2 linked regions of the Homo sapiens genome follow. The protein of the gene in region 1 interacts with the protein of each later gene in a pairwise test. Each region holds a gene or a part of one and is shown on either strand. Other genes may lie near its edges. The genes, in order: ARHGAP17 and DNMBP.

Region 1 (16,369 bases):
CAAGCGATCCTCCCACCTGAGCCTCCCAAGTAGCTGGGGACTACATGCACATGCTACCATGCCTGGCTAAACTTTTTGCGTGTGTAGAGACAGGATCTTGCTATGTTGCTCAGGCTGGTCTCAAACTCCTGGTCTCAAGTGATCCTCCCACCTCAGCCTCCCAAAATGCTGAGATTACAAGCATGGGCCACTGCACCCGGCTCACTGACAACTTTTCATACCACAAGCATTAGTCTCTAAACTACAAATGAAAGCAGGCAGCCCACAGCCAGATAATGCTTTCAGATGTTTTCTTTGGCCAACAGTGGGTTTTTTTCTTTTTAGTTGCCAACATTTAAATATCAAGAAACTTCACATGAAAATCAGCATTCTGGAGTATCATCAAAAATGGAAGATGTAGCTTCACTACTCCCACGTTCACCATGGCAACAAGTGGCTAGAACTGAAGAGCAGCTCTCCCCTTTGAATGAACATGTATTCACCAGTTCACTGCAGTCCCCACATTCCCTACTGTCCTATACCCGCCTCCCATTTCACTTATTTATTTTACCCAACCTGGCACTTCGGTTTGTGACCCCTGCTTATGTGATTGTGGTTTCCAACCTTTGGGAATATGGGAAATATTATTTACAGTAAAAAAATTTAACAGACTCTCAATAGGTATATAACTAAAAGTAAGACAAGTCCACAATCCCTATCACCATTTTGTAATCCAAAAAGTTCTAAAAAACAAATCTTTTTTTGTAACTTATTTGGCAATAAAAGTTGACCTGAACTGATATTAAACTATGCATAATCTTCATGCATATCCATTCAGTGGGAATATATGTATATATATTTTGCTATACTAATGTTTGATTATGGGATTTTGTCCCAGACCCCACTGGAAGTATTACATAACAACAATATATGCATATTATTACTTTTAGAAAAATCTGAAAAATTCTGAATTCTAAAACTTATCTGGCCCAATGATTCCAGATAAGGGACTGTGGGCCTATTACACTTTTAATCCCTACCTTTAAGAAAATACAAACACAGCGAACAGATGAGAGTTTAACATTTTTACATGGATTTGTACTTCACTAGTTACTACAGCATCTACCTACACTTGAGAAACTGAAATAGAATGATAAAGGTGAAACATCCTGTGGTCTGACAAAAATGCACGGTGCACGTACTGACTGCAGCGCCCTAGGCCATAATCAAACTTGGAAGGTTTTGCCTCGTCCACTCTGCTACAAAGGCAATTCCATAATAGCGTAACATGCCGCTTACACATATAAAAATGATGCTAAATGAACATATCCTTTTATGGTTCAAATTTACAGATGAAAATTTTCTACTGGTTCATCATTTTTATGGTTTTAGAGTTCATTTCTTCCCCCCAGTAAAGAATGGATTTTCACTCAACTATAAATACTTCTGGATTTCTTAACATGTAAACTACATAATAAGGCCATAAAAGATGAGATTGAGAAGCTGCTGCAACGACAAGAGGACCTCTTTCCACCCTGCTCTATGGAGAGGTTGATGGAATCCACTCAGATTGAAGCAAAGCACACATTACCTATCCCTTCTCAGAAATACTGTTCAGAGTTCCCCTAGAAAAGGCAGAGTGGGCAGGCGTGGTGGCTCACGCCTGTAACCCCAGCACTTTGGGAGGCCAAGGTGGGTGGATCACCTGAGGTCAGGGGTTCAAGACCAGCCTGGCCAACATGGCAAAACTCCATCTCTACTAAAAAATACAAAAATTAGCCAGGCTTGGTGGCTCATGCCTGTAAGCCCAGCTACTCGGGAGGCTGAGGAAGGAGAATCGCTTGAACCCAGGAGGTGGAGGTTGCAGTGAGTCGAGATTGTACCACTGCACTCCAGTCTGGGCGGCAGAGCGAGACTCCGTCAAAAAAAAAAAAAAAAGGGTGGGGGGAAGGAAAGGTAGAGTGAAGATCAGTGGGAGGAAAAGGACACAGTGGAGTGGGTGAGGGATGCAGAATGTTACTGCTGGCAACGTAAGGATAAGGTTTGTGATCATCAAATACAGGCAGGGCTGACTCAGGGAAGAGAGATGAGATTCATTCAATTCGGCAGCAGGGGACTGTTCTGGGATCAGTAGGTAGAGACACATTTTGACTCAGTGTGAGAATTCACATTGCTGGTAGTGGATCCAACTACCTAGTGAGTGGTCCATTCTACATACCTCCTAGGAGTGGAAGACTCCTAGAGGTCATTAGATCTCTGTGATCAGAATTTATAGCTGCTGCAGAATCAGAAACCTGGGTTTGGGTCCACGGCTCTGTCTCTTGCGAGCTTGATGACCTCTTTGATCTCTGGCTTCCTCATCATTAAATCAGAAATAAGTAACATCACCTCAGAGGGTGGCTATGAGAATGCAATGAAATAAAAGTATGCAAAGCACCAAGCCCAGCAGCTTCATAAGCACAGAAGATGTTTAATAAACATTAATAAACACTAATCCTTCCCTGGTGAAGAGGCAGCCCAGTTCCTGTACTCAAAAGCACTTGGGAACCACAGGAAGAGGCCCTGGACCCAAGCCATGCCTCAGCCACTACTCAGTAACTGTGCAAACTTAGAAAGTCAGGTTTCTTCCTCTTTTTTTTCTTTTTTTTTTTGAGACAGGGTCTTGCTCTGTCACCCAGACTGGAGTGCAGTGGCATGATCTCAGCTCACTGCAGCCTCGACTTTCCAGGCTCAGTTGATCCTCCCACCTCAGCCTCCCAAGCAGCTGAGACAGGCAAACACCACCACTCCTGGCTAGTTTTCTGTATTTTTTGTAAAGACCGGGTTTCACCATGTTGCTCAGGCTGGTCTGAAATTCCTGGGTTCAAGTGATCCTCCTACCTCGGGCTCTCAAAGTGTCAGGATTACAGGCGTGAGCCACCCCACCCCACCCAGCCAGGTTTCCATCTTTGTCAGAGAGAAGTTATCATTGTCAGGAGACGAAATCCAAGCCAGGTGGTTTAGTACAGCACTTTGTAAACTAAACCACCATAGAAATGTTATAGACTGTTACTATCAGACCTTTTCAAGATTTTAGTAAAGAAAGGATGAGCTGTTTTTCAACAAATCCAAAGAACTGAAAACATCAGGGTAAGGTACAGGGGAATAAATGAAAAAGAGGGACTGTCAATTTCTGAGTCCTTCTAGACAAGCAGTTGGGTGATCCACAGAAATATTTTGTTCAGCTGCATATAGTGTCCCCGTAGTTTAATTTGGATTAAACGCCAGCTAGTTAAAATGCAGATTTCAGGAAAACTCCACAGGTGGTCCACACTGGGCCTACATTACCACAGCAGCCCCTTTGGTGGGACACAGTCCTCCAGGTCCCCTGAGGCCTTCACATGGCCCAAAGCACTGATTCATTTTACTGGCCTCGCCCTCTAGGCATTTGGGTTTACAACCTTGGGTTCTCAAAAAACAACTATCTGTGAAAGCATTCAGACCTCCAAGGGAAACTTCAGTCAGGGAAGAAATCAACACCCAAGGAGACACTCCCTATCAGAGCCTCAGTACTATGCTCTCCTAGTTGTCTCTCAAATTTTTTTTCTCCTTGATACTTCTGTAACTTCAAGGTCTTCATCCCAGTGTACTCCTTCCTCTACTCAAGACATCATCTCCCCAAAAACACCATTGGTGATGATCTGCATCTAAGGGTTTTCAAGAAACAAAACATCTCTCTTTTTAGCAGGGCTACAAAAGACACACCATGACCTTTATTTCTTGCCTGATTACCACCCATTACCATCCACTCTCAGTCCATATGGTTTGGGTGCGCTGACTCCAGTCCATTTCTGGGGAAAGGCATGTGACCCAGAAGCATTCAGAGCCAATCCTGGGACTCGGGCCACAGTGACTGCGAGATGAGTATTCTTTCCCTCTGAGACTTGGAAGATGTGGAAGTCTCCCAGTGGACACAGTGCCTACCTAAAGAGTGGAACCGAGGCCAGGCGCAGTGGCTCATGCCTGTAATCCCAGCACTTTGGGAGGCCAAGGTGGGCAGATCATCTGAGGGCAGGAGTTTGAGACCAGCCTGGCCAACATGGCAAAACCACATCTCTACTGAAAATACAAAAATCAGTCGGGCATGGTGGTACAGGCCTGTAGTCCCAGCTACTTGGGAGGCTGAGACGGGAGAATTGCTTGAACCTAGGAGGTGGAGGCTGCAGTGAGCCGCGCCACTACACTCCAACCTGGGTGACAGAGCCAGACTCCGTCTCAAAAAAAAAAAAAAAGAGTGGAACCCCCAGAAGAAGCCAAATCTGCAGCCACACTACTTATTAGAGGCTCTTTTGGTCACTTATGAGCCAATCAATTCCCGTCTTTGCTATGAACTGGGTTTTCTTACAACCAAAAGAGACCTAATCAATACAAGAGATATTTGAAATAAGGGCTTGAAAATGAAGGCAGAGAAAGGTGCTCAGATTTTCTCCTCTGGGAAGCTTTTGTTACCTCCCTCAATCCAATGACAGCTGGGTTTTGCTCTGTGCATTAGCCATCCCTCTTAAGCACTTATCTCATGTATATAATTATTTTTTGCCTGCCTACCTCTTCCACGTATCTCCTGAGCTCCCTCAGGGCAGAAACCATGCCCGTATTCACCTTTGATTCTTTAATACCCTGGATAACAGGACACAGTGTAGGCTCAACAAGTGTCTGTTGAATGCATGAATCAACAAAAGGCAGGTGGACTAAAAGAACCATCCTACTTCTCTTCTTTGGGACACTCACACCATGAGACCACCTCATAAGCCTTGCCCCTGTGAGTTTCAGGCCGTCTTCTCAAATAGACTTACCCACCCATCGTAAACAAACTGCATCATGCGAACTCATTCCTTCCAGGCATTACTAATTCTCTACAAGTCCCTCCCCTGGAACCTTACAGTGAAAGTACTCAAAGGTCTCCCTTCTGAGGAGAATATCTCACTGCAAGACACCACCTAGAATTCCACAAATTGATAAACCAAAACACGATGGGCATGACATTCACATATATAACTTCCTTCTCCACCTAGATCGCAGGGGCGAAAACAAAAAAACCCTTTGCTTTGTAGCCTTCATCTTGACCTAAAAACACCCAGAATCCTGATTCTGGGGCCAACCAACCACCTACTTCCAAGCAGTAACAATTCTAGGCACTCTCCAGCCTCCGTTTATCTTCCTTAGTCCTTTCTGATTACTTAAGCAGAAAACACATACACACACACATCTAGGAAATCAACAGCAAGGAAGCAACAGGTTTCCCAGTTAAAAACAGATGTTCTGACTTTGGGTGCATAATTGCCACACCCTTAATAGTTCTGTAATAGCTTCAGCTTCCACTGGCATCTAGCAATAAAGATTTTTAAAGACAGTCAAAGGTCAGGCCCAGAATTACAGCTCCAGCATGAATCACCATCTACTCTATCCACTTCATGTTTTCCCATACTCGGGCCCACACCACCAAGGCGATCTAGTAAGAACTCAAATACCAGAATTAACAATGTCTACTGCACCCTGGCCATGGGGTAGGAACCACAGCAGACCCTGGGAATCAAAGGAGACACAGCAAGGACTCTCAAGGTATTTATCTGATGGAGAACACACACAAGAGGCAGTCACAGCACAGAAAAGCAAGTGCTACACAGGATTACAAGAACGCCCAGGAGAGGCATCCAATCTATGCTGTAGCATCATAGAAGGCCTTTCAGAGGCAGAGGGACCTTTCCCAGAAGGCTGAAGAATGAGCAAGAGGTGCCTGGAGAAAAGGTGTGGTGGGAGAGGCTTCCAGGAGTTCCAAGTAGATGCTAGCAGGTAAGAAAGCAAGACCTCCTGTGGAAACTGAAGGTAGGCAAGCATGGCCGGAATTTTAAAATGTGAAGGTGCCAGGCAAGGTGGCTCACGCTTGTAGTCCCAGAACTTTGGGAGGCCAAGGCAGGCAGATCAGTTGAGGCCAGGAGTTCGAGACCACCCTAGGCAACATGGCAAATCCCCACTCTACAAAAAATACAAAAATTAGCGGATGTGGTGGTGCCCACCTGTAGTTCCAACCACATAGGTGGCTGAGGCGAGAGGGTCGCTTGAGCCCAGGGAAGTCAAGGCTGCAATGAGACAAGATCGCACCACTGCACCCCAGCTTGGGTGACAAAGGGAGACCCTGTCTCAAAAAAAAAAAAAAGTGTGAAGGGAGAAGCCTCTAAGATGACCCAGGAGTCAAAGAGACCCTAAATAGCTTGGTAGATTTAAGTCTCAGAACTTTGTATAAAAAGAGTGAAAGTCCCTTACCTGTCACGAACAATGTAAAAACAAGCCAAACGACTATTTGACAAATGTATCTTGGCACTTACTAAATACTAGTTCCACAATGCACGTTGCTCAGAACACTAACAAGGGTACGAAACTCACAAGAAATTATCATGTGCTTGTAAACTGTTCCTTGAAACATCAGCCGCCATTACCACACGTCTACCTTCCTCTCAGCATTATTTCTTTAATTTTCCTGCAAATAACAGAAAAGTAGGTTTGTCTGGGCTTTAGGGGCAGCGATTAACCCTGAAAATAAGAGTTAATTCTCACCACAATAATACGGTAGGGAATCGAAAAAATTAAACAAGGAAACTAAGCAAAAAGATGGAGGAAATGAAACAGTAAAAAGCAAATTTAGAAAACTCGAGAGGAAGTAAAAGTATTTTCATACACTCAAAAAAAAGAAGTGTCCCACGTGCTTCAGCCAAACCAAACTCCCCTTAACTGTTAAAAACAGAAAATCAAAAGAAGAGCTGTGAGAAATTCATACTTTCGTATCTCTTTGCTGAATAAACACTAAATCGGTACAGTACAGCCAGCTGCCCTGAAAGACCTTGAAATATTAGCCCCAGATAATACAGCACATGACAGTCACCTCCAGAAACTCTCAAAAACCACAAATCATTTCTTGTTCTGACAACCTGATCTACCAACTCTGGTCTAGCCTGCCATTTAATAATCAATAACGTTTCTTGTTAAGCACTTCAACCGTAGCAAAGGAAGATAAAGAAGCATTTGTTTCCAAACCTAAGGTGAGACTTTTTAAATTGGCGCAAGGCGTCTCCATAATCCTTTTCCGCCAATTCCTAATTTCTAAATGTCAAGAACTGGCAGCAGCAGTCCAGTTCCTAGGAGCCCTGGTTTTGAGACAGCACCACCTCCGAATTCCCTCAAAGGGCGTTCTGAACTCACTGAGCAAATCCGGCTGGCTTTCATGTCCCTCTAGCCATTTCTTGCCGCCATGCACTTACAGGAGAAGGACTCGCAAACAGCGGGAGCACCGGGAAAGCCTGGGACTGCCGCCCCCCACAGCACAGCGCTCGGCACAGCGTTAGGGACAGAAGTCACCGTTGTTGAGCCCAGGGCAGCGATCCCAGCTGGCTCGGCCCCCGGGAAGGGAGGAGAAGGACCGGGTCTACTCCCCGAGGGCGATGCTCCCGGGGCAGGGACAATGGGCAGGGGACCCCGCGGTGTGGCGGAGGAGGCGGCGGCCCTCCCCTGCAGGTCTCGGGAGCCCGGCGGCGCTGAGAGACAGGCGGGCCGCCTGGAGCGCGGCGCTCGGGCCTCAGCGCGGCGCAGCCCCCGGGCCCGTGCCCCGCTGGTCTCGGGCAGGGGCTGCGGCCCAGCTCAGAGCCGCCGGACCGCGGAGGAGCCGTCCCGCCCCCGCGCCCTCCGCCCTCCGCCCCCAGCCCCGGTGCGACCCCCGTGCTGCCCGGCGCACTCGCCTGCCCACGGTCTGGTTAGCCAGCTGCTTCATGCGGTTGAACTGCTTCTTCATGGCGGCGGTGGCGGCGGCGGCCCGCGGGGCTCGGGCCGGGCAGGGCGGGGGACAGCCTGGCAGCTACTACATCGCTTCCCGGCCCAAACGGCGGCGCGGCGGTGGCTCCCCGGGCCGGCGGCCCCGCCCTCGCCTCGTCACTTCCAGTGGCACCGCCCGCCCGCCCTCTAGGTCTGGCCGAGCCGAGCTGAGCCCGAGTAGAGCCGAGTCGAACCGAGCCGAGGCTAACAGTGCCTTACCTGACACGGGCGAAGAGCTAGAAGGCCCCGGGCGAGAAGACCACTAGGCCTCCTCCGCCTGGCCTCCCCGACCCCAACGCTGCCCGGTCACCCTCTCGTTTATTTCAACGTATGAAAAGCTGTTTCTAGCAGGGCGCAGTGGTTCAACGTTGTAATCTCAGCACTTTGGGAGGCCGAGGGGGCAGATCACTTGAGCTCGGGAGTTCGAGAGCAGCCTGGCCAACACGGTGAAATCCTGTCTCTACTAACAATACAAATTTAGCTGGGCGTGGTGGTGGACGCCTGTAATCCCAGCTACTCAGGAGGCTGAAGCAGGAGAACGGCTTTTACCCGAAAGGCAGAGGTTGCAGTGAGCCGAGATGGCGCCACTGCACTCCAGCCTGGGCAACAGAGTGAGAGACCCTGTCTCGAAAAAAAAAAAAAAAAAAAAAATTAAAGTCAATGTGTGTTTTCCTTAACACACGTGCTCACACACTCATGTCTTCCTGGTTTGGTGGCCTTGGCTCCAGGTAAGCCCCTTCTTTGCATTGGATGGGCAGCAATGTGGCTTCTTTCATCAGCCACATCTCAAATGTGCTCCTAAATGTCATAGAAAAAGGAAAGAGCTCCCTAACTATGGGATAAAGGAGACTGATGCCAGTTTGGAATTCTTAATATCAAAGAATGAGGGACTTCAAGATCTTTTTAGTGACCTAGGAGAGACCTAGGAAGCATCAGAGCTTCAGATAGGGCAGCAAACTAAAAGTTATCGACATCAATTACAACAGAAAGAGGTAGAAATGAGCCTTCCTAAAACAAGAAAGCAAGCACTACAGGATCGGTTGCAGGACCGGCAGCCAGCCCTGGAGTCAGCACATTCAGGGAAGGCCGGAGGTTCCCATCCACACTGCATCCCCTCCATTCCATGTGGTACCCATCATGCTTCAGTGTTCCACGACGCTTACATGGGTTTTTATGACATAATTTCATCATAACAAGAAATAAACAGATAGTCCAATGAAGTTCTAAAACTTGAGTCTCCAGTTGGCCATTGGAAATGTATTGCTCAGACTTATAAAATAGGAGGAACAACTAGTTTTGATGAAAATGAAATCTACAAACTACAAACACCAAATATTAATATCATCAAGGAGCTCAAACAAAAAAGAAGTCAGGATACTGATGACCATCAGCTTGAATTATCAGTATTACAGAATGTTCATCAACAGAAATTGAGGGAAATAAGTTGTAAGCATCAAGAAAATCTAAGCAATTAGGAAGAAAAGATTGAAGAACTGGAAAATTTGTTACAGCAAGGTGGCTCAGGAATTACAGTACATGATCTCTCTAAACTTCAAGAGAAGGAAAACACTATTCATGCAAGCTCTACAAATTGAAAAAGTAGAGTCTACCAAAAAATTGAAGAATTTGAACATAGAGTAAAAGACAAATAAAAAATTATCTTCTGGGGCCAGGTGCAGTGGCTCACACCTGTAATCCTAGCACTTTGGGAGGTCAAGATGGGAAGATCACTTGAGCTCAGGAGTATGAGACTAGCCTGGACAACATACTAAAACCTCATCTCTATGAAAAATTTAAAAAAAAAAAAAAGGCCAGAAGCAGTGGCATGCACCTGTACTCCCAACTAGTTGAAAGGCTGAGGCAACAGGATCATTTGAGCCCAGGAATTTGAGGCTGCAGTGAGCTATTATCACACCATTGCACTCTTGTCTGGGTGACAGAGTGAGACCCCTAGCTGAAAAGAGGCTATTGGAAGAAACAACTCTGAGAAAACCATGAAAAGATTGTCCACTGAAGCTAACCTGGAGAGCTCTGCCTTACAGCTAGAGCAAGAGTGTGTAATTAAACTCAGCCACGAGAAAGACTCTGAAATGTCAGCACTCAAAAAGAATATTGAGGCTGGGTGCAATGCATCACACCTGTAATCCCAGCACTTTGGGAGGTCGAGGTAGGTGGATCACCTGAGGTCAGGAGTTCAAGACCAGCCTGGCCAACATGGTGAAACCCAGTCTCTACTAAAAATACAAAAATTAGTCAGGCGTGGTGGCGGGCGCCTGTAATCCCAGCTGCTGGGGAAGCTGAGACGAGACAATCGCTTGAACCTTGGAGGCAGAGGTTGCAGTGAGCTGAGATCTGGCCTCTGCAGGGTGGTCCAGCCTAGGTGACAGGGTGGTCCAGTCAAGGTGACAGAGACAACGTGACAAGGTTACTGTCTCAAAAAAAAAAAAAGAATATTAAACAGATGGACACTGACCATAAAGAAACTAAAGAAAAAGTGCTCCTAAATTTACTCCAAGAGATTGAAGAGCTAAGAAAATCGCTGCAGGAAAAAGATGCAACCATTAGATCCCTCCAAGAAGACAATCAGAGACTGATTTGATTTTGTCATCTAGTTGAGAAGAGCAGAAGCAATTGACACAACTTATAAGAGAGAAAGCAATTTTTTTAAAAAAAAACTTAAAGGAAGTTCAGAGCTTCCAGAGGAATTATTATACTAAAACCTTAAGAAAGAAAGAAAGAAATTTCATAGCAAACCATAGAGGAAAAAGACAGATGTCTTGCATCCATGAAAGAAAAAAAAATCTGATAGAAGAATTGAAATGACTCAGAGGACAACAAAGTCTAACTGCCCCTGTGGCTGAGCCTAGAATGGTAGATACTATTATGGTACTAGAATTGGAGATATTTCAAATGAAAATAATCAAAGGTAATCTTGAGGAGGGAATAAAGTATCATCAAAATATATTTGAAGGTTGGGCATGGTGACTCATGCCTATAATCCCAGCACTTTGGGAGGCCAAAATCACTTGAGGCCAGGAGTTCAAGAAATCACTTGAACTTTGGGAGGCCAAAATCACTTGAGGCCAGGAGTTCAAGACCGGCCTGGCCAACATGGTGAAACCCTGTCTCTACTAAAAATAAAATTAGCCAGGTGCGGTGGAAGTGCCTGTAGTCCCAGCTACTCTGGAGGCTGAGGCAGGAGAATCGCTTGAACCCAGGAGGTAGAGGTTGCAGTGAGCCAAGATCGCACCACTGTACTCCAGCCTGGGCAACAGAAGAAGAATCCGTCAAAAAAAACAAAAACAAAAACAAAAAAGACTGAAGAGGCCAGGCACAGCGGCTCACGTCTGTAATCCCAGCACTTTGGGAGGCCGAGGTGAGTAGATCATCTGGGGTCAGGAGTTTGAGACCAGCCTGGCCAACATGGCAAAACCTTGTCTCCACTAAAAATACAAAAATTAGCCGGGTGTGGTGGTGGGTGCCTGTAATCCCAGCTACTCAAGAGGCTGAGGCAGGAGAATTGTTTGAACCCAGGAGGCACAGGTTGCAGTGAGCCAGGATTGTGCCACTACACTCCAGCCTGGCCGACAGAGCAAGATTCTGTCTCAAAAATAAATAAATAAATAACCATAATTGAAGAGCAAACACAGAGTAAGATGCAACTGCTTCAGTCTTTAAAAGAGGAGAAAAAAGTAGGAAATGGATGATTTTTAAAACCAGCACAAGCAAATGAGTATCACATACACCCAGCTCTTTTCAGTAAAAGGTGAAGAAATTAGGAATTTGCAAAACACAATAGGAAAAGAATCAAAACCCAGCTGCATGAAACAGGACAAGACATTAAAAGACTCTGAGCCATTTTTCAAGCAACAGAAGTTGAATGTCCCAATATAGAAAGCAGAAGTGAAACGCATAGTTTATTTAAATCTGAAACTGAAAGATTAGTGAAAGGAATGAAAGAGCAAGAATTGGAGATTAATCCTGAATCAAGGACCAGAGGGGGAAAGAAAGAATTGGAGAATAAATTTATAAGTAAAAATAATATGACTTTAAACAGATGGATCAGCTGTCCATCAATGGGGTTGGTCAGGAAGATACAGAGGTGCAGGGCCTTCAGGCTAGAACAGCTTCAGCCTCTGACACCCAGGGCGTTGCTCACCTTCAGCAGCAACTGCAAGCACCTGCTTTGGACAGAGAACAAATACAGGCTGTTTGGAATAAGGCAGCTCAAGAAAATAGCTGTCTCAAAAAGGAAGATCACCAAACAATGGATATTATTGCTGGTAATGAAACAGGCCCCCATAAGCTGCAAGAGGAAAATAAAAAACTGTCCACTAGTAATGGTCAGGAGAAATTTAAAGACACTTTTCAGAAGTCATCATGTCTCATTCTAGAAAAAGACATTGAAACAGATGCATTAAGTCAGGAATGTCAAACTTTAGTGACAATTTTGCAAGCATCCAGCACTGGTCATGAGATTGGAGGTGTTAATGGTAATCCGTTTGAGGAGCTTCCACAAGGACCTAATAAATTAAAACAGCCAGTTAAGAAAATGGAAGTGTGGGCCGGGCGTGGTAGCTCATGCCTGTAATCCCAGCCCTTTGGGAGGCCGAGGCGGGCGGATCACCTGAGGTCAGGAGTTTGAGACCAGCCTGGCCAATATGGCAAAACCCCATCTCTACTAAAAATACAAAAAAAAATTAGCCGGGCGTGGTGGCGGGTGCCTGGGAGGCTGAGGCAGGAGAATTGCTTGAACCTGGGAGGCGGAGGTTGCAGTGAGCTGAGATCGCACTATTGCACTCAAGCCTGGGCGACAAAAGTGAAACTCCATCTCAAAAAGAAAGAGAGAGAGAGAGAGAGAGAGAAAGAAAGACAGAGACAGACAGAAATAAAGAAAGGAAGGAAGGACGGAAGGAAGGAAGGAAGGAAGGAAGGAAGGAAGGAAGGAAGAAAGAAAGAAAAAAATGGAAAGAGCAGCTGGCGACCACAGTGGGTGCAGCATGGGGCAGCCCAACTCCAAGAAGAACTTTGTCACCTTCAAGCAAAGCTTTTAACTGACAGTGATAATGATTTTAAACTCCAGATGAACTGTAGTGACCTGATGCAAAAAAACGAAGGGAATGAAACTCAACTCAAAAACCTGGGGCAGGAGTTAGCACACACGCAGCACAGCATCAGACAGCTCTGTCACGGCAAGGACAGTTTCTTCCCACAGCTGGATATTTTACCCCAGCTCCCCAGAGAAGCACTTTCTTCACATGCCGCAGAATCTCCTCACGCAAGTGAGTCTGCTCTGTCGAGTGAGTCTTCTAAATTGCTCCAAGATATTGAAGAGCTAAGAAAATCACTGCAGGAAAAAGATGCAACCATTAGATCCCTCCAAGGAGACAATCAGAGACTGTCTGATTCCACTGCTGCCATCTCAGAGCTAGAAAGAAAAGAACATATATAAATGCATTCAGAAATTCAGCAGCTGAAGGAGAAACAAAATGTCTTAGACAGGTTACTTAGGGGAAAAAACCTTTTCATCAAAGCCAAAAGTAGTAAATTACATTCTTAGAGAGAAAATCTCACTAATAAATGAATAAAAATGAGCTTTTGAGGCAGGCAGTCAGAAACCTGAAGGAGAGAATATCAATTTTAGAAATGCATATGGGTAAACTAAAACAGGACAATGAAAAAGTAGTAGAAACATCCAGGGGGGAAAAAAAACAGGCCAGGTGCAGTGGCTCACGCCTGTAATCCCAGCACTTTGGGAGGTCAAGGCGGGTGGATCATGAGGTCAGGAGTTCAAGACCAGCCTGGCCAAGATGGTGAAACGCCCATCTCTATGAAAAATACAAAAATTAGCCAAGCGTGGTGGGAGGCACCTGTAGTCCCAGCTACTCAGGAGGCTGAGGCAGGAGAACCACTTGAACCTGGGGCGGGGGGGCGGAGGTTCCAGTGAGCTGAGATCGTGCCACTGCACTCCAGCCTGGATGACAGAGTGAGAAGACTCCGTCTCAAAATATATATATATATATATACGCGTATATATATATATATATATATATATATACACGCGTATATATATATATATGCGTATATATATATATATATGCGTATATATATATATATATATATATATATACACACGTATATATATATGTATATATCAGCCATTACAAGAGATTAATATGCCAGGTGTGGTGGCTCATGCCTATAATACTAGCACTTTGGGAGGCTGAGGCAGGCAGGTCACACTTGAGCCCAGATGTTCAAGACCAGCCTAGGCAACATAGGAAGACCTTGTCTCTCTATACAAAATTTAAAAAATTAGCTGGGCATGGTAGCATGCGTCTGTAGCCCCAGCTGCTTTGGAAGTGAGGAGGCAGAATCGCTTAAGCCCAGGAGTTCAAGACTGCAGTGAGCTATGATGACGACAATATATTCCAGCCTGGATGACAGCGCGAGACTCTGTTTCAAAAAACAAACAAAAAAAAAGTTACAGTATTGGAGGTAAATCTAGTTTCTTCTGCAAATCAAATGAAAAATGCAAGCCAGGAAGCAAGGTTGCAGGTGAAATCATTAAATGAAAAACTGAATATGGGCCAGGTGCATTGACTCACACCTGTAATCCCAGCACTTTGGGAGGCTGAGGTGGGCGGATCACTTGAGGTCAGGATTTCCAGACCAGCCTGGCCAACATGCTGAAACCCCATCTCTACTTGAAAAAAAAAAAAAAATTATGTGGGCATGGTGGTGGGCGTCTGTAATCCCAGCTACTCAGGAGGCTGAGGTGGGAGAATCACTTGAGCCTGGGAGGCAGAGGTTGCAGTGAGCGGAGATCGTACCACTGCACTCCAGCCTGGGCAACAAAGCGAGACTTCGTCTCAAATAAATAAATAAAAATATACAACAAAGTTTAGGAAACACACCAGCTTTCATACCCAGAGGAACAGATGCCAATCCCTGTTCCTCTGCTGTGTCACTTATGAGGCTGACTGGACTAGGACCGGGTGGGTCAGGGCATGTTCTATAAAATGCTGCTGCAGAGGTTTTGCCCACATGTGCACCTCTGCTGACTTCACCTGGCCAGAGGGCAGGAGCTGGGCTGAAAGGCTGTCAAAGCAATGGATGATTCTCAGAGACTAGGAAAGATCAAGCCATGCTGTGTATCTACTTTATCATTAAGTAGCCTTTAGGAAATAGTCATTTATTTGTTCTCAGTTTTGCTCTCTTTAATTTTTTTTTTTTTTTTTTTTTTGAGACAGGGTCTTACTCTATCACCCAGGCTGGCATGCAGTGGCGAGATCTCAGCTCACTGCAACCTCCACCTCCCAGGGTCAAGCAATTCTCTCACCTCAGCCTCCTGAGTAGCTGGGATTACAGGCGCCCACCACCATGCCCAGCTAATTTTTGTACTTTTAGTAGAAATGAGGTTTTGCCATTTTGGCCAGGCTGGTCTCAAACACCTGGCCTCAAGTGATCCGCCCACCTTGGCCTCCCAAAGTGCTGGGATTACAGGTGTGAGCCATTGCACTCAGCTTCTTTAAATTTAATAAAAATATTCTTAATGATTTTAAGTGTCTTTGAAGGGCTGTAAAGGTATTCACCCAACTTTAAACTGTGATTACTTCTTGTGAAGGTGGGTATTGGTGACATTGGAGGTTGTGGTCAAAGGATACTTCAGGTAGGGTTTATAATGCTTTTATTTTTTTGCAAGAAACAGGTATTTGTGTATATGTTGGTTAATTAAAATATTAATTTGTGGCCAGGCACGATGGCTCACGCCTGTAATCCCAGCACCACTTCGGGAGGCTGAGGCAGAAGGATTCCTTGACCCTAGGAGTTCAAGACCAGCCTGGGCAACATAGTGAGATCTCGTCTCTACAAATAATAATTTAAAAAATTAGCTGTGCGTGGTGACATATGCCTGTAGTCCCAGCTACTCCAGAGGCTGAGGCAGAGGATCCCTTGAGTCCAGGAGGTCGAGGCTGCAGTGAGCTGTGATCATGCCACTGCACGCCAGCCTGGGCAACAGAGCAAGACCATGTCTCAAAAAAAAAAGAAAAAATATATATATATTAGTGTTAAGGATCAACTATTAGAAACACCATAGGTGTATACTCCTTACGTAAGAAAAAAGATGAACAGCACAAAAGTACAAGTTGTATAACATTTTAAAAATTAAAGTTCCCTTTTTTGGCTACGACTCACTCTCCTTTCCATTGCCTAGAAAACCACCTTATTGTTTACTTGTTTGTTTGGTTTTTTTTTGATTTTTTTAAAAAAGTGCATATTTGTATATATGTCAGTGTATTATTCTCTGATTTGCTTTCTATTTATTCTTATTTTATTATCATCATCATTATTATTTTGAGACAGAGTTTTGCTGTGTCGCCCAGGCTAGATTGCGGTGACGCGATCATGGCTCACCGCAGGCTCAACATTGCAGGCCCAAGCAATCCTCCCACCTCAACCTCCCAAGTAGATGGGACCACAGGCATGTGCCACCACGCCCTGCTAATTTTTTTATTTTTTTGAAGAGATGAGGTCTTCCTATGTTGCC
Region 2 (16,289 bases), on another chromosome or scaffold:
ATATCTTATATTTACAATCATGCTGACAACAAAACTTATCATCCTGAGTATGGCTCTTTCTCTCATTTTTCACATCAGCTATTTAAATTCTGACTCGTAATGCCAGGAGGAAAAAGCTGACCTAATGGTGAAATAAACTTGTATTGGAATCTTGAGATGCTTTCCACAAATTATATATGTAGGGTTAATAAATATCTTCTGCTTGAAACAAAGTCAGCATAGGGTTAGGATTTTGGTATACAGCCTTCCTGATGCCATCTTATTTCCTCAAGGACAGATCCTGAAAAAGTACTTGGTAAGGCTTAATACCTATTTATGATGAAAACTCTCAGTAAACTAGGATTGAGGGTAATACCTTAAAACTTGATAAAGGTAACATACAAAACCTAAAACAAACATTATATGAAATAGGAAATCTTTAGACTCACTCTTTTTAAGACTGAGAACAAGACAAAGATGCCCGTTAGTGTAGCAGCTGTTTTGACACAGTTCTAGTAGTCCTGGCCAATGCTGTAAGGAAAGAAAAATGAATAAGAAGTATAAGAATGGGAAAGGGCTGGGCACGGTGGCTCAGGCCTGTAATCCCAGCACTTTGGGAGGCCAAGGCACGTGGATCACAAGGTCACATTGAGACCATCCTGGCTATCATGGTAAAACCCCATCTTTACCAAAAATACAAAAAAATTAGCCAGGCGTGGTGGCACACACCGGTAGCCCCAGCTACTCAGGAGGCTGAGGCAGGAGAATTGCTTGAACCTGGGAGGCGGAGGTTACAGTGAGCAGAGATCGAGCCACTGCACTCCAGCCTGGGCGACAGAGCGAGACTCCATTCCAAAAGAAAAACAAACAAACAAACAAAAAGAACTGATGAAGCATGTATTTAGAGATTAAAGGGACATGATGTCTACAATTAAAGGGGTCAGGGGAAAAAGCACACAAAGAAAACATACTCTTAGCACTCTTCTGTTAGCTTTAAATTATTTCCAAAATTATAAAAATGTCAGAAAAATGAGCTGAATAAACGGAAAGACACATTATATGCTCTTGGATGGAATGAGTTACTATTTCAGTGGCTCACACTTGTAATCCCAGCACACTTTGAGGTGGGAAGACCATTTGAGGCCAGGAGTTACTGGCCAGGGCCCAGCCAGGGCAACAGAGTGAGACCTCATCTCTATTAAAACAACAACAACAACAACAAAAAACTTATAAAAATATTTAGCTGGGTGTGGTGGCTGCAGTGAGCTATCATCGCACCACTGTACTCCAGCCTGGGCAACAGAGGGAGACCCTGTCTTAAAAAGAAAAATAAAAAATAAAAAAGCAACATGGCACATAAAAAATAAATAAATAAATAAAATAAGATGTTAACCCTCCTCAAATAATTTATAAACTCAATAAACTCCAATAAAAATTCCTCAAAAATATAATTTTTTGGCCAGGCACAGTGGCTCATGCCTGTAATCCAAGCACTTTGGGAGGCCAAGGCAGGAAGATTGCTGGAGCCCGGGAGTTCAAGACCGGCCTGGACAACAAAGGGCGTCCCTATCTCTAAAAAAATTACAAAAAAAAAAAAGAAAAATTAGCCAGGGATGGTGGCACATGCCTGTGGTCTCAGCTACTTGGGAGGCTAGAATGGGAGGATCACTTGAGCCTGGGAGGTTGAGGCTGCAGTGAGCCGTGATGGTGCCACTGCACTCCAGCCTGGGTAACAGAGTGACACAAGGTCTCAAAAGAAAAAATATATATATATAAATATATATGTATATATAATGTTTGGGTAGCCTGGTAAACTTATTCCAAATTTTATATGGAAAAAATAAATTTTGGTCCAGGAAGAGCTAAATAAACTTTAAGATGAATGGCTTGCTGTGCCAGTCATTAGGACATACTACAAAGTCACTGTAATAAAATTAGAGCAATTAAAAAAATGAAGTAAGAACTGACAGACTAATGGAACAAAATAAATGCTTAGGGCCAGACAAGTGTATCCATGGAAACCACAAATGAGAAAGAGATACCATAATTTCATAGAGGAAAGCATGGATTTTGTTGACATGTTATTAGAAAAACTGGGTCATTAAATGGAGAAAAATAGGGCTGGATTCCTATCTAACACATGAAAATGCGGGCCCTAGAGAGATGAAAGTCACAGACATGACCTAGGGTTCAGGAAGAGTTCCTTAAACAAAACTCCAAAAACATAAACCGCAAGTCAAAGAATTTATCTATTTGATTACATCAAAATTAAAAATATTTCTTGATCAAAGGATGGCAAAGACAAAACGAGAACTAAATGAGAAGATTTGATCAACAGATGTCAAGATGCCCAAATGAGAAGACATCTGCAAAGTCTAAACATAACAGGGAATAAATACCTATATTATAAAATCATTTCTGCAAGTCAACAGCAACAAAATAGATATCAACTCCAACAGAAAATGCCAAAGACATGAATAAGCAATTTACAGAGGAAGCTATCTGTATAAGAGATACTCAAAATCTCTAGTCATCAAAGAAATATAAATTAAAACGACAAGATATCACTTTGTGCTTACGAGATTGAAAACCATGGATAGCTGGAAAGAGGCGAGTGCTGGTGGGACATGAGGATACAGGAGTCCTCAAATATTAATACTTCCAGAGGCACAGAGACTGGGGCAGCCACTGTGGAGAGGCATCTGGCACTATTTAATCAAATTCAGTCTCTGCAAGCCTATAATCCAGCAATTCCACAGAAATATTATACAGCTTTGTAAGGAGACATGTAGGAAGATGTTCACTGCAGCAATATTTATGGTGTTAGGGGGTAGGAACAACTTGAGTAACCACTCACTACACAGAGAGCAGATAAAGCAAAACCAATGGATGCAAACAGCATGGGGTATAAATGCAGCATTCCAAAGCAGAGAATTAGACACATAACAATATGGATGGATCTTAAAAACACTACTCAGAGACCTGGCATGGTGGTTCATACCTGTAATCCCAGTACTTTGGGAGGCCAAGGCAGGCGGATCACCTGAGGTCAGGAGTTCGAGACCAGCCTGGCCAACATGGTGAAACCCCGTCTCTACTAAAATACAAAAAAATTAGCTGGGCGTGGTGGCGCATGACTGTAATTCCAGCTACTCAAGAGGCTGAGGCAGGAAATGGCTTGAACCCGGGAGGCGGAGGCTGCAGTGAGCCGAGATCTCGCCACTGTACTCCAGCCTGGGCAACAGAGTGAGACTCTTGTCTCAAAAGTCTCCAAAAAAAAAAAAAAAAAAAACCAAACTACATAAAGGAAAATGAATTACAGCATTATAAATCAAGATACATACACATAAAACAAACATTCCCACTTTGCAAGCTCCTACATAAACAAAAGGAAGCACATGCAATGCATTAAGAATGAACACCTGTGAGACATGAGATGAATGGGACAAGGGAATTCTACAACAAAACCAATCTTTTAGATTCCTTGCGTGTTATAAAAGAAAAACTCTTATGACCTACGATAAACACAGAATTGTTTCCTTCCCCAAAGTTCCCAATTTTCCAAACAACAAAAGCTACTCTGGTTGCCAGTTCTGTTGATGAGTAACAGCTTTTCATCCTTTTTCAATCAGGAAGGGAAAATTCAGGGATCAGCAAAGTACAAAAGGGATGAGCAGAGAATATTTACGAAACAGTGTTTTTGTTCTCATGACCTGACAATCTGACTGAAAAAGACCTGATTACCTCTTGATTTGGGATGATTCAGCTACAGGCAGGTTGGTGTCAAGTTTTCAGGTCATCTGAAGCGATTTACTTTCAGAACCTCTTCCCACGCAATCCTCTTGCCTCCCTGTAGAAATAATACCCTGCACTACTTGAAAACTTAAAATTCTTGAGCTAGAGAGGGCCCAGTTATTTTACAGATGAGGAAACGAAGACTCAGGGAAGAATTATGGTGTGAGTCACACAGCTCTAGCTTGAAAAGGTCTCCCTGACTCAGCCCTTGTCCTCTTCCTGTCTATTCTCAACCCAGCAGCCAGTTATCCTTTTAAAACATAAGTCATCATCAACTTCACTGTTCAAAGCTCTCCAACGGCTTCCCCCTCACTCAGTGTAAAGGCCAAAATCCTTACAATGACCTACACTGATGTGTCCTCCCCACTCCCACCCCCTCTCATCTGCTGCCACCTCCCCCCAACCCACATCCACACTGACTGGCCACCATGACCTTGCCACCCCTAACATGCCAAGCATGCTCCTGCACCAGGGTTTGGAACATGCTCATCCCACTGCCTCCTGCTCACTTCCTCATTTCCTTCCAGTCTCCCACCATGAGTTAGGCCAGGTGTGGTGGCCCATGCCTGTAATCCCAGCACTTTGGGAGGCCAAGGTGGGTGGATCGCTTGAGGCCAGGAGTTCCAGACCAGCCTGAGCGACATAGTGAAACCCCGCGTCTACTAAAAATACAAACATTGGCCCAGCGTGGTGATATAAGCCTGCAGTCCCAGCTTACTCGGGAGGCTGAGATGGGAGGATCACTTGAGCCCAGGAGGTTGAGGCTACAGTGAGCTGTGATCACGCCACTGCACTCCAGCCTGGGTGACAGAGCAAGACTCTGTCTCCAAAAAAAAAAAAGTTATCTCAGTAGAGGCTTTATTTGACCCCTCTATATAAAAAGTAAATCCCCTACCACACATATACATACACACACACACACTCTTACCCTTTCCTGACTCTAAAGTTCTCCACAGCATTATGATCCTTTGACCTATTCATTCACATATTTGTCTGTTTCCACCCAATTAGAATGTGTCTGTTCCACGAGGGCTTAGTCTGTTTTGTTCAAACTGGTTCCCCCTCCCAGCACCCACAGCATACACAAGTGCTACCACGACCCCGGCACACACAGGTGCCCCCCACAAGCACATACAGGTGTTCCTCCTCCCGGCACACACAGGTGCCCACCCTCTCAGCACACACAGGTGCTCAGTGAGAATGTGTTCAGTGAATAAACAAGTAAGGACCAAAAGCCATGCCTTCAGACTCCTCACACAATGCCCTATGTGCCTGCCCTCAAGTGCTGGTTCAATTCTTGGTGGTCACGTCCTTCAGTCAGAAGAAAAGATCTAGAAATCTAAAAATGAAATAATACATTTTAGCTACTCTATTTCACCTCCCACAGCTGCCTTTCATAGCAGGGAGGATAAAGAACACAACTAAAAGTTAACATCTTGGTTTAACGGCTCTTTCATTAAAGAGCTCATTTTACTGCTGCTACTTAAGAACTTTCTGCCTTTCCAGGCAAGAAACTAATAACTCATAATTAACTCCTGACCAACAAGACTAAGTTAACCAATCTTGAAAATTAGCTTATTCAGATGTTTTCCAGAGTGTGTATAATAAGAAACTATTTCATATTAATTGAATTGGTGTTGCAAAACTTTCCAGAAGTATTCTGAATGAATTCTAAGGATGCTTTGGCAGATGATCAAGCACATTCGAGAATTTCACAGGAGATAATCTCGTAATAATACCATGTTGTAGGTAATCCATTAGCTGACTCTAGAAACAACAGAATACTAAACCTAGAAAATAAGCCAAAAGCCAGGCTCGGTGGCTCACGCCTGTAATCCCAGCATTTTGGGAGGCTGAGGCAGGCGGATCACCTGAAGTCAGGAGCCAGAAAAGAGGAAGAGATTGATGGAACGTTGAGGGAAATGCCCTGCCTTGGGGCTGCAAGACAAATAAATAACTGGTGCATATTTAAACAGATCGTTTATGAAGATTATTATTATCTCAGCCAAAAAATACACAATATGAACACTGTATAAAAGTCAATTTATCACATTCTCTGAGTCAGACTGTTCTTGGCTTATTGCAAAAGTTATCAGTGCACTGCACGAACCCCGTTCCCAAGCCAGACTTGAGCTACTCTCCACCCTCCAGAAATCACTCCATTGCAGCCTCTGAATTTAAGTGAATTTAACACGTAAGTATCTGCAATTTGAAAAGTCACTTTTCACTTATTTTAGCCCAACCCTGATAAAGTGACTGAGAGAGCTGAGAATAATGAATTTGAAGATTCGCTATGCCCCATTATGCAGAATTCTAAAAATCTTTTCTTCTTAAAACATTTTTATTATCACAATGAGTGACGTGTTTCAAGTTAACATGTAAAATCGGAGAACTCGAGACAGAAGAGGACCTTAGAGATCCTTTAATTCAATATTTTAGAGAAAAATGGGTAGAGGATAAACTAACTTGCTGATCACCGTGTCGGTATTCATGCTGTGAAAGTAATAAACGGAACACCAACTGAGAAATGATCCCCGAATGCTGTCAGGTACTTCAGTCTTGCAAAAACTACTACAGATTAATCAGTCCTGCTCATCCGTTTAACTCAGCTATGTAAACAAGCAGAGCTAGACTATGCTCAAACCCTAAATATTAGCGTTACCACTCGCCTGCCACATACTACAGCATCATTAGTTATGAAAGTGTTTTAATACAAGATCTTCATGTTTGTGTAAAAGAATTACTATAAAACAGACCTAAAGGCAAGTTACCCATATTCCAGAATAAGTGAGTGCCAAAAATATTCACCCTTCATTACAGTACAAATGAGACAGGCAGTAATAATGAGACTGCATTTAAAGTTGTTTTTGCACTTAAAATTTAAGTCTATACTCCTCATCTGCATCAGGCCCCGGCCTGTTTGGTAACCTCAATATTCCTTTACTAAAGTGACAGCATCACCACCCTTTGAGACACAGATGCCCGGTGGACATCTGTGCCTGCAGCAGGAACGCGGGTGTCCGCGGGTTTCTGCAAAACTCCACCATGACCAAAGCTGCATCTCCAGCTGAACAGGTCTAACCCTTGCTTCGGAAGCCATCTGTCCCTGTCTCCCTGACACAGAATCACGGCCTCCTATGCCGTAAGGCTCCGAACATCTGTAAAATCAGCGGGGTGGACTAACGCAGAATTCTTTTTCCAGCTCTCAAAATTCCGCCTCATTGCCGGAGTGGCAGGGCGGTGCAGAGAAAGAGCCCTGGGCTTGACACCGCTTGAAAAGCCCACGTTCGCATTGCTCTGACCACCCCTCCAACTCCCGGGGACTACAGGAGTGCGAGGGGGCCCGCTGCGCCCCACTGTCCCTCGCGGGCTCCTGGCCCACAGAGCGCAGCACAGCGCCGCCGCTGGGAAAGGGCCGATACAGGCCTAGCCGCGCGGCGCGGCGCGGCGCGTCTCTCGGGGTGCGGGTCCCCTCCGCCCGCGGCCCCGGACCGCGACCCCCGCTCCCCGCCCGGCCCCCGCCCGGCTCCGGCCTGGCCCGGCCTCTGACCTGCTTTCCGCCGCCCGGCGGTCCCTCGGCGCGGCAGGCAGTTGCAGCCGCCAGTCCCCAGCCCGCTGTCACCTCCGCCCCTGGAAGCGGCGGGCGGGTCGATCCCGTGTGAGTCAGCGCGCCGCCCCGCCTCCCGCTCAGGCTTCCGCCTCTGCCGGCGCGGTCCGCGCGGCCCCGGGGGCGCCAAGCTCCGCTGCCCGCGCGCCCACCTCTCCGGCGCCCGCCCCGCGCTCGCGCCCCCTGGCGGCCGGCCCGGCCCTGCTCGCCTCGCGACGTCAGAGGGGCGTCGCTCCCAGAACGGCCACCGGGGAAACTGAGGCACGGGGGCCCGCCCCCGCCGCAGCGCGCCGACACGGCTCGTCGGGCCTCGGCCTCACGCAGTCCTACGTGCAGCCCCGGCTGCGGACAAGTTCCTCCACTCTTGCTGTTCCCCCACTCCCGACACCACCCTCCAACCTAGAAAAAAGTCAAAATTCCATTCAGAGAAGTCCAAGTCGATTCCTGTCTGCGTGTGATGCTGTCCTCTTTGCTACCCCGAGGCAGTTTCCCTTATTATGCCACACAATACTCGCTGGGGTTCGCCTCTATCTGTCCCATTTTTTTCTGAGGAAAGTCTCTCAGGACATCTTTGAGAATTTGAGAGCAAGAAATGACAGAAGCAAGAACTGGGCAGGGCTGTCAGAACTCCTCCTCCGACTCAGTTTCTGAATCCCCGCAGTATTCCCGTTGTTTGTTTAAAGACCACGAAGTTACACAGCTTGGCTATGTTGCTGGAATTGCTGCGCCTCACGTTTCTGGAATCTACCTAGAGGATTCTGAAGAAGGCGGCGAGTCTATGACTGTGCATGCACAACAAAAATAAATATTTCACAAATCTCATCCCATGCTGTATATGTTTCTCCTTCCCTTTGCTTTTTAAAAACTTGTGGTTAAATATATATCACATGAAATTTACCATTTTAATCCTTTTTAAGTGTACAGTTCAGTGGCATTAAGTACATTGACATTGTTCTGCAACCATCACCACCATCCAGCTCCAGAACTTTTTCATCTTCCCAAACTGAAACTGTACCCATTAAACACTAACTCCTCATTCTCCAGCCCCTGGTAACCATCATTCTACTTTCTGTCTCTATGATTACTCTGGATACCTCATATAAGTGGGATCATACAATATTGTCCTTTTGTGAGTGGCTTCTTTCACCTAGCATAATGTCTTCAAGGCTCACCCATGTTGTAGCATGCGTTAGAATATCCTTCCTTTTGAAGGCTGAATAATACTCAATTGTACGTATATAACATCTTTGGTTTATCCCATCTTTCTGTGGACATTTGGGTTGTTTGTACCTTTAGGCTATGGTGAATAATGCTGCAATGAACATGGGTGTACAAATATCTGAGTCCCTACTTTCAATTCTTTTGGGTATATATCCAGAAGAATTGCTGGATCATGTGGTAATTCTGTGTTTAATTTTTTGAGAAGCCACCATACTGTTTTTTTTTCCTTTGCTTTTTGAAGCATGTTAACACTGTAAAGAGAACATTTTGTAGTAAAATATCAACGTTCGGAGAGTCTTTAAAATTCTTAGCAATGCTTCATTTGCCTGTAAAACTGTGACTTTTCGGCGGATCACGAGGTCAAGAGAACGAGACCATCCTGGTCAACATGGTGAAACCCTGTCTCTACTAAAAATAAAAAATTAGCTGGTCATGGTGGTGGGTGCCTGTAGTCCCAGCTACTCGGGAGGCTGAGGCAGGAGAATCGCTTGAACCCGGGAGGTAGAGGTTGCAGTGAGCTGAGATCGCGCCACTGCACTCCAGCGTGGTGACACAGCGAGACTCCGTCTCAAATAAATAAATAAATAAATAAATAAATAAATATTTTAAAACAAGTGACTTTTCTTTCCTCAAGAAAGTAATTAACATTGCAAATCTATTGTCTTTATTTTTGGATAATGTTATTAGCCAAAATAAAAATAACTTATTATTCAGTTTCCTACAATTTTGTTTTCTGTGGATGTAGCTTTCTAAAGTTGTTTGGAGTCAAGTATGCCATATGAAATTCAGATGAAAAATCAAGCATTTCGTTTTATTTATTTTTTTCGCCACGTTGGTCAGGCTGGGCTTGAACTCCTGACCTCAGGTGATCCACCCTCCTCGGCCTCCCAAAGTACTGGGATTACAGGCATGAACCACTGCGCCCAGCCTGGGGATCGGAGTTTTTTGTTTGTTTGTTTTTTTGAGACGGAGTCTCGCTCCGTCTCCCAGGCTTGAGTGCAGCGGCGTGATCTCGGCTCATTGCAAGCTCCGCCTTCTGGGTTCCCGCCATTCTCCTGCCTCAGCCTCCCGAGTAGCTGGTACTGCAGGCGCCCGCCACCACGCCTGGCTAATTTTTTTTTTGTATTTTTGTAGTAGAAACGGACTATCACCGTGTTAGCCAGGATTGTCTCCATCTCCTGACCTTGTGGAGTTTTTAAAGATAATTTGGCTGGTGGGGTCTTGAGAAGTGGGGAGTGCTGATTGGTCAGGTTGGAGATGGAAACATAGGGGGTCAAAATGAGGTTTTCTTGCTGTTTTCTGCTCCTGGGTGCAATGCAGAACTGGTTGAGCCAGATTACCGGTCTGGATGGTGTCAGCAGATCCATCAACTGCAGGGTCTGCAAAATATCTCAAATACTGATCTTAGGTTTTGAAATAGTGATGTTATTCCAGGAGCAATTTGGGAGGTTCAGGCTCTTGGAGTCAGAGGCTGCATGACCCCTAAACTGTAATTTTTTTTTTTTTTTTTTTTTTTGAGACGGAGTCTTAGTCTACCGCCCAGGCTGGAGTGCAGGGGTGCAATCTCAGCTCACTGCAACCTCCACCTCCCGAGTTGAAGCGATTCTCGTGCCTCAGCCTCCCTAGTAGCTGAAATTACAAGCATGCACCACCACGTCCAGCTAATTTTTGTATTTTTAGTAGAGATGAGGTTTCACATTGTTGGCCAGGCTGGTCTCAAACTCCTGGCCTCAAGTGATCCATCCACCTCAGTCTCCCAAAGTTCTGGGATTACAGGTGTGAGCCACCACTCCCGGCCTTAAACTGTAATTTCTAATCTTGTAGCTAATTTGTTAGTCCTGCAAAGGCAGACTGGTCCCTAGGCAAGAAGGGGGTCTTTTTGGCAAAGGGCTATTATCAATTTTGTTTCAGAGTCATGAACTGAATTCTTTCCCAAAGTTAGTTCAGCCTATGCCCAGGAATGAACGAGGACAACTTAAAGGTTAGAAGCAAGATGGGGTCAGTTAGGTCTGCTTTCTTTCACTTCATAAGTTCCTCAGTTAAAATTTTGCAAAGGTGGTTTTATACTTTTCATTTATCAATGAATTCTTACTGTACATTTGTGATGTAACAGGCATTGTGCTAGGTGTTTGGCATTCAGGCTGACCAACACAGACAAGATCCTTGCCTTCATGGAGCTCACATTCTAGAGTAGGGTAACAGACAATAAAGAAATAAACAAATGATAATCCAGACAATCATGGGGTGTAGTTGAGTGTTATGAAGGAAACAAACCAACTGATGCGATAGATTAGATCACAGAGAATTAAAGCCTAGTGCCCTAGGCATTTGTTGTATGTAATGAGTTAACTTCTCTCCTATGCAATGTTGGGGCTTAGAAACCAATACCCTAAAATAGGGTGCTTTGTACATGTTGAGCTGAAAAAGCAGTCTCAAGGTCTCTCTCAACCTCCTCCCACCTGCCCCTCTTCACTGTCTCTCCCAAAGCATAGTATTCTCTGAAGTTTCCTTATCTGTCCAAAGTCCTGACCTACCAAAGAAAAACAATTATCTCTGATCTCTTTCCTGAGTTTTAATTAACTGAACCCACATTGCAAGAAAGAAGACCAAAGTCTGTCAATAAACCTGGACAGACTTTTGTCACAAACCACTGTCTGGTCTGCAGGCCCAACAGACTTTGTCCCAGACCATTGGAAGTTCCTCAAGTTCATTGAATTCTCCCTAGTAATCATTTATTGCCCTCAATAGAATTCCTCTTCTTCACCCTCCCATAACCTGTTTTGCCAGCATCCAAGTCACCATTTTTTCTGTAGCCTCAAGATGGTACATAAGCTTCTGCACCCCATTGGGGGGTTGGTCTTCCGTGTCACATAAAACTATTGTCAAACAGATGCATATGCCAATTAATCTGCCTTTTGTGACCTGATTTTTCAGCAAAACTTCAGAGGGCGAAGAGGAAGTTCACCTGACCCCAACAGCAACCAGAACAGTTCAAGTCATACTCAGTCCTTGAAAGAACTAAGAGGACAATTCACTCCACACAGCTTCTATGTCATGTGGTTTAGATAAGGAATCTAGGCTGATAAAGGCCAAAGTGAGGGATGGGAACCTTCTCTGAATATAGAGATAGTTGGGGAAATCCCCTCTGGGGATGTAACATTTACCTGAAACTTGAATAATGAGAAAGAATCAAGCCGGACATGGTGGCTCAAGCCTGTAGTCCCACGATCTGCAGTGAGCCATGATGGCACCACTGCACTCCAGCCTGTGTGACAGAGTGAAACCCCATCTCAAAAAAAGAGAGAAAGAATCAGCCATGTAAAGAGCTCTTCAGGCAGGAGAAACTGCAGGTGCAAAATCTTGAAGTAGAAAGCCATCTAGTACGTTTCGGAAACACAAAATAAGCCATGTGAACAAAGGAGGCAGTTTTATGAGATCAGATTAGAAAACAAACAGGGCCAGGTGCAGTGTCACGCATCTGTAATCCCAGCTACTTTGGAGGGTGAGGTGAGAGGCTCACTTGAGCCCAGAAGTTCAAGATTGCAGCACATTATGATTGTGCCTGTGAATAGCCACTGCACTCCAGCCTGGGCAACATAGCAAGACCCTGTCTCTTAATAATAATAATAATAACTATCTTTTTTTTTCTTTTTTTTTTTTTGAGATGCAGTCTCGCTCTGTCGCCCAGGCCGGAGTGCAGTAGTGCGTGCAATCTTGGTTCACTGCAACCTCTGCCTCCCAGGTTCAACTGATTTTCCTGCCTCAGCCTCCCAAGTAGCTGGGACTACAGGCATGCGCCACCACAACCGGTTAATTTTTGTATTTTTAGTAGAGATGGGGTTGCATCATGTTGGTCAGACTGGTCTTGAACTCCTGACCTCAGGTGATCCACCCTCCTCGGCCTCCCAAAGTGCTGGGATTACAAGCATGAGCCACCGCACACGGCCAAATAATAACTATCTAACAAACAGTATGTAGGTCATTTCTGGTTTGGTGAGCCATGGTAAAGAGATTGATTTTTGTGATAAGTTGATGTATTGAGACGTGATTAAAATATCCCCAAATGAAGGGACTGAAATGAAAATAACCAAACGAGATAAATGTGTGTGGAACTGCCTTGTTAACAATAAGGATTATATCTGTATATGTCATATTAAAACTAAAAAGTACATTGTTTTTCCCCTTGAATAATCCTCAATAAACCAAAACACAGAATGGCTCAATTCATATTTTGATTCATCTAATTGATTAAAACTATTTGGGTGTGTCATCCTTTGATATACCGTAAGTACTATCACGGTTATGAGGGGCTGCACCATGAACTAACAGTTTGGCATGACTTGGCCCCATATCAAAGGCAACTCCCTCTGGCTTCCCCCCACAATGCACCATGTCACAGCCATAAGCTGTTGTTTGCAATGGCAAGCAGATGAGAGTAGTGAGCTGCTGAAACTAATCAAAGCTGGCCTTGCTCATGCTATGTCAGCTAACCGTCCATCCTGGAATAGCCAGGGGACCAAATTCCAGGGTGGTGGGGAGGAGGGGATGTATAGATAAAATACTGTTAATATATGCTTATTTCTATTATAAAAGAAAATGTGATCCAACAACCTAGTGATAGAACATGGAAGACATAGGTTTGCATCCTAAAATGTCAGACATCACATGAAAATACTAACAACTATTCATCAAAATGTTGACACAATGCACCTGGCAGTCTCATGGCCAAGGTTCAGAACGGTGAGAATTCAAGTTGAAAAGAGATCGACAGAGGAAGATTGGTGATCAGATCTCACAGGCAAAGGAGAAGTCAGCATGGTTTTCTTTTCTTTTTTTTTTTGAGACGGAGTTTCACTCTTGTTGCCCAGGCTGGAGTGCAATGGCGGGATCTCGGCTCACTGCAACCTCCGCCTCCCGAGTTCAAGCAATTCTCCTGCCTAAGCCTCCCAAGTATCTGGGATTACAGGCGCCCACCACCACAACCGTTTAATTTTTCTATTTTTAGTAGAGATGGGGATTCACCTCGTTGGCCAGGCTGTTCTCGAACTCCTGACCTCACCTCAGGTGATCCACTTGCCTCGGCCTCCCAAAGTGCTGGGATTACAGGCGGAGCCACCACACCCGGCCAAGTCAGGATAGTTTTCACAGAGGGCATCTGTCTGGTGGACTTGAACTAGGACAAGGCCAACTCCTAGAAGACAACAGAGGCCATTTGGTTTCATTTAGGGATAGACCCTGGTTGGCAAGAGTAAGACCAGGTCTTGTTTTGTTCTTCCTAGAAGAGAACAGACCCTATAAGAAAGCTTCTGTATTCTGAAGAAAAGACTGTATCATGTTTATCTTCAGGGCTGTTCTTAATATATTGATATATTGATGCCTAGGGACTCCTCTTCCTATCTACTTGCAGAAGCTTGAATTGGTTTACGGGAAAACAGAGAATTATTTCACACTCAGAAGTAAAAACCATGGCTGGACGCAATGTCTCACACCTGTAATCCCAGCACTCTGGGAGGCTGAGGTGGGGTGGATCGCTTGAGGCCAAGAGTTCAAGACCAGCCTGGCCAACATGCTGAAACCCTGTCTCTACTAAAAATACAAAACTTAGCCGGGCATGGTGGTGTGTGGCTGTAATCCCAGCTACTTGGAAGGCTGATGTGTGAGATGTATCTCCCTCAAACCTTGCTACAACATTAGTAATGTACCAATGTCTGACATTAAAAAAAAATCATTGGCTTGTAAAATAAAAGCCTTCTATAAACTACAGTGTGTTTCAAATACTATATTTGAGTATTTTTAAAAAGAACAAAATTGTGGTCACTTTATTTCTTCATTTATTTATTCTTCCTCTGATTCCAGAAAGGATTTAAGGAAACTCACTCAATTCCTTTGATCTAGTGCCGGGATGGACTTCATCCCAAAGGGCTCACATGGGACAATCTAAAAGGAAGTCAAAGATGCCTTTTCTCCCCGCTCCTGCGGGGTGAACATGGATCCAAGGGGTGACTTTCTTTGCCGAAGTAGGGGGATCACCTGAGGTCAGGAGTTTGAGACCAGCCTGACCAACATGGTGAAACCCCGTCTCTACTAAAAATACAAAATATACTTGGGCATGGTGTTGCACACCTGTAATCCCAGCTACTCAGGAGGCTGAGGCAGGAGAATAGCTTGAACCTGGGAGGCGGAGGTTGCAGTGAACCGAGATCGTGCCACTGCACTCCAGCCTGGGCAACAGAGTAAGATTCCATCTCCAGAAAAAATAAAATAAAATAAGGGCCAGGCATGGTGGGGCACGCCTGTAATCCCAGCACTTTGGAAGGCCGAGGTGGGTGGATCACCTGAGATCGGGAGATCTAGACCAGCCTGACCAACATGGTGAAAACCTGTCTCTACTAAATACAAAAAAATTAGCCGGGTGTGGTGGCGCATGCCTGTAATCCCAGCTGCTTGGGAGGCTGAGGCAGGAGAATTGCTTGAACCCAGGAGGCGGAGGTTGCAGTGAGCTAAGATCATGCCATTGCACTCCAACCTGGGCAACAAGAGCGAAATTCCATTTAAAAATAAAAAATAAGAATCAATAAAAACAAATTAACTAAAAGAGAGCATTCTGAATGTTTTCACCACAAAGAAGTAATAAATATTTGAGATGATGGATTTGCTAATTACTCTGATTTGCTAATTATACAATGTATACATATATTGTACCCCATAAATATGTACAATTATATGTCAATGAAAGATAAATAAAACAGAAAAAAGTCACAGTAAAATCAAAATGATGCTTAAATTCAACAAAATTATAATGCTCTTTTGTTGTTTTGTCCACAACCATCATTCCTGTTTTTTTTCTTTTTGAGATGGAGTCTCGCTCTGTTGCCCAGGCTGGAGTGCAGTGGCATGATCTCCACTCACTGCAACCTCTGCCTCCCACGGTCAAGCAATTCTCCTGCCTCAGCCTCCCAAGTAGCTGGGATTGCAGGCATGTGCCACCATGCCCGGCTAACTTTTCTATTTTTAGTAGAGACGGGGTTTTATGTTGGCCAAGCTGGTCTCGAATTCCTGGCCTCAAGTGATCTGCCTGTCTTGATCTCCCAGGGATTTTTTGTTTGTTTGTTTTAATGGGAAACAACTCATCTATACTCGCAGTCCCCCATATTTCCATTCCAGCACCCAGAAGTGATCATATGACCCCAGACTGACCAATCAGAGTCACTGTGATAGTTTTAGAGATAGGCACGTAATCCAGTTTGTGCTATTGAGATTCATGCTCAAGAATCAATAGTTTGTTGCTAAACTGTGTTAAATGAAATTTATAGGAGGCCATTGGGTGGAACTGAGCTCTTGCACTAGGCTTAACAGATAAAACCAAAATGGAGTTACTCATACTGAAGTTTCCACCAAGCCAAAACTAAGCTATTTATTTGATCTTCCAAGAAATCAGGCAAGAAATAGATAATAGCCAAATCCCCAAACAGGCCTGTTTTGGGAAGCATGATGAGGTGGCCCCCTCTGCTTTAACCTTTATAAGGAAAGTAACTTTGTAACAACCAATCAGTTTTTGTTCTGTTCCTGCGTTCTTCAGCCCTCTTCTGCCTATAAAGTCAAATTTCTCTGCTCAACTCATCTGAACACTCATTCTATCTTATAGAATGAGTTGTTGCCCAATTCTAGAATTGCAAATAAAAGCCAA

What was found.
Region 2: the proteins of ARHGAP17 (region 1) and DNMBP interact in a two-hybrid assay, tested with the Homo sapiens proteins (one study listed by BioGRID and IntAct).

The regions. Positions count from the first base shown.
Region 1 is NC_000016.10:25,007,464-25,023,832, forward strand, and holds the start of ARHGAP17 (rho GTPase-activating protein 17), read right to left. Parts: upstream 7,907-16,369; 5' UTR 7,799-7,906; coding exon 7,746-7,798; intron 7,416-7,745; exon of another isoform or gene 7,213-7,415; intron 7,166-7,212; exon of another isoform or gene 6,450-7,165; coding exon of another isoform or gene 6,400-6,449; intron 1-6,399. UniProt on the Homo sapiens protein: Rho GTPase-activating protein involved in the maintenance of tight junction by regulating the activity of CDC42, thereby playing a central role in apical polarity of epithelial cells.
Region 2 is NC_000010.11:100,002,514-100,018,802, forward strand, and holds the start of DNMBP (dynamin-binding protein), read right to left. Parts: upstream 7,435-16,289; 5' UTR 7,325-7,434; intron 7,071-7,324; exon of another isoform or gene 3,724-7,070; intron 511-3,723; exon of another isoform or gene 429-510; intron 1-428. UniProt on the Homo sapiens protein: Plays a critical role as a guanine nucleotide exchange factor (GEF) for CDC42 in several intracellular processes associated with the actin and microtubule cytoskeleton.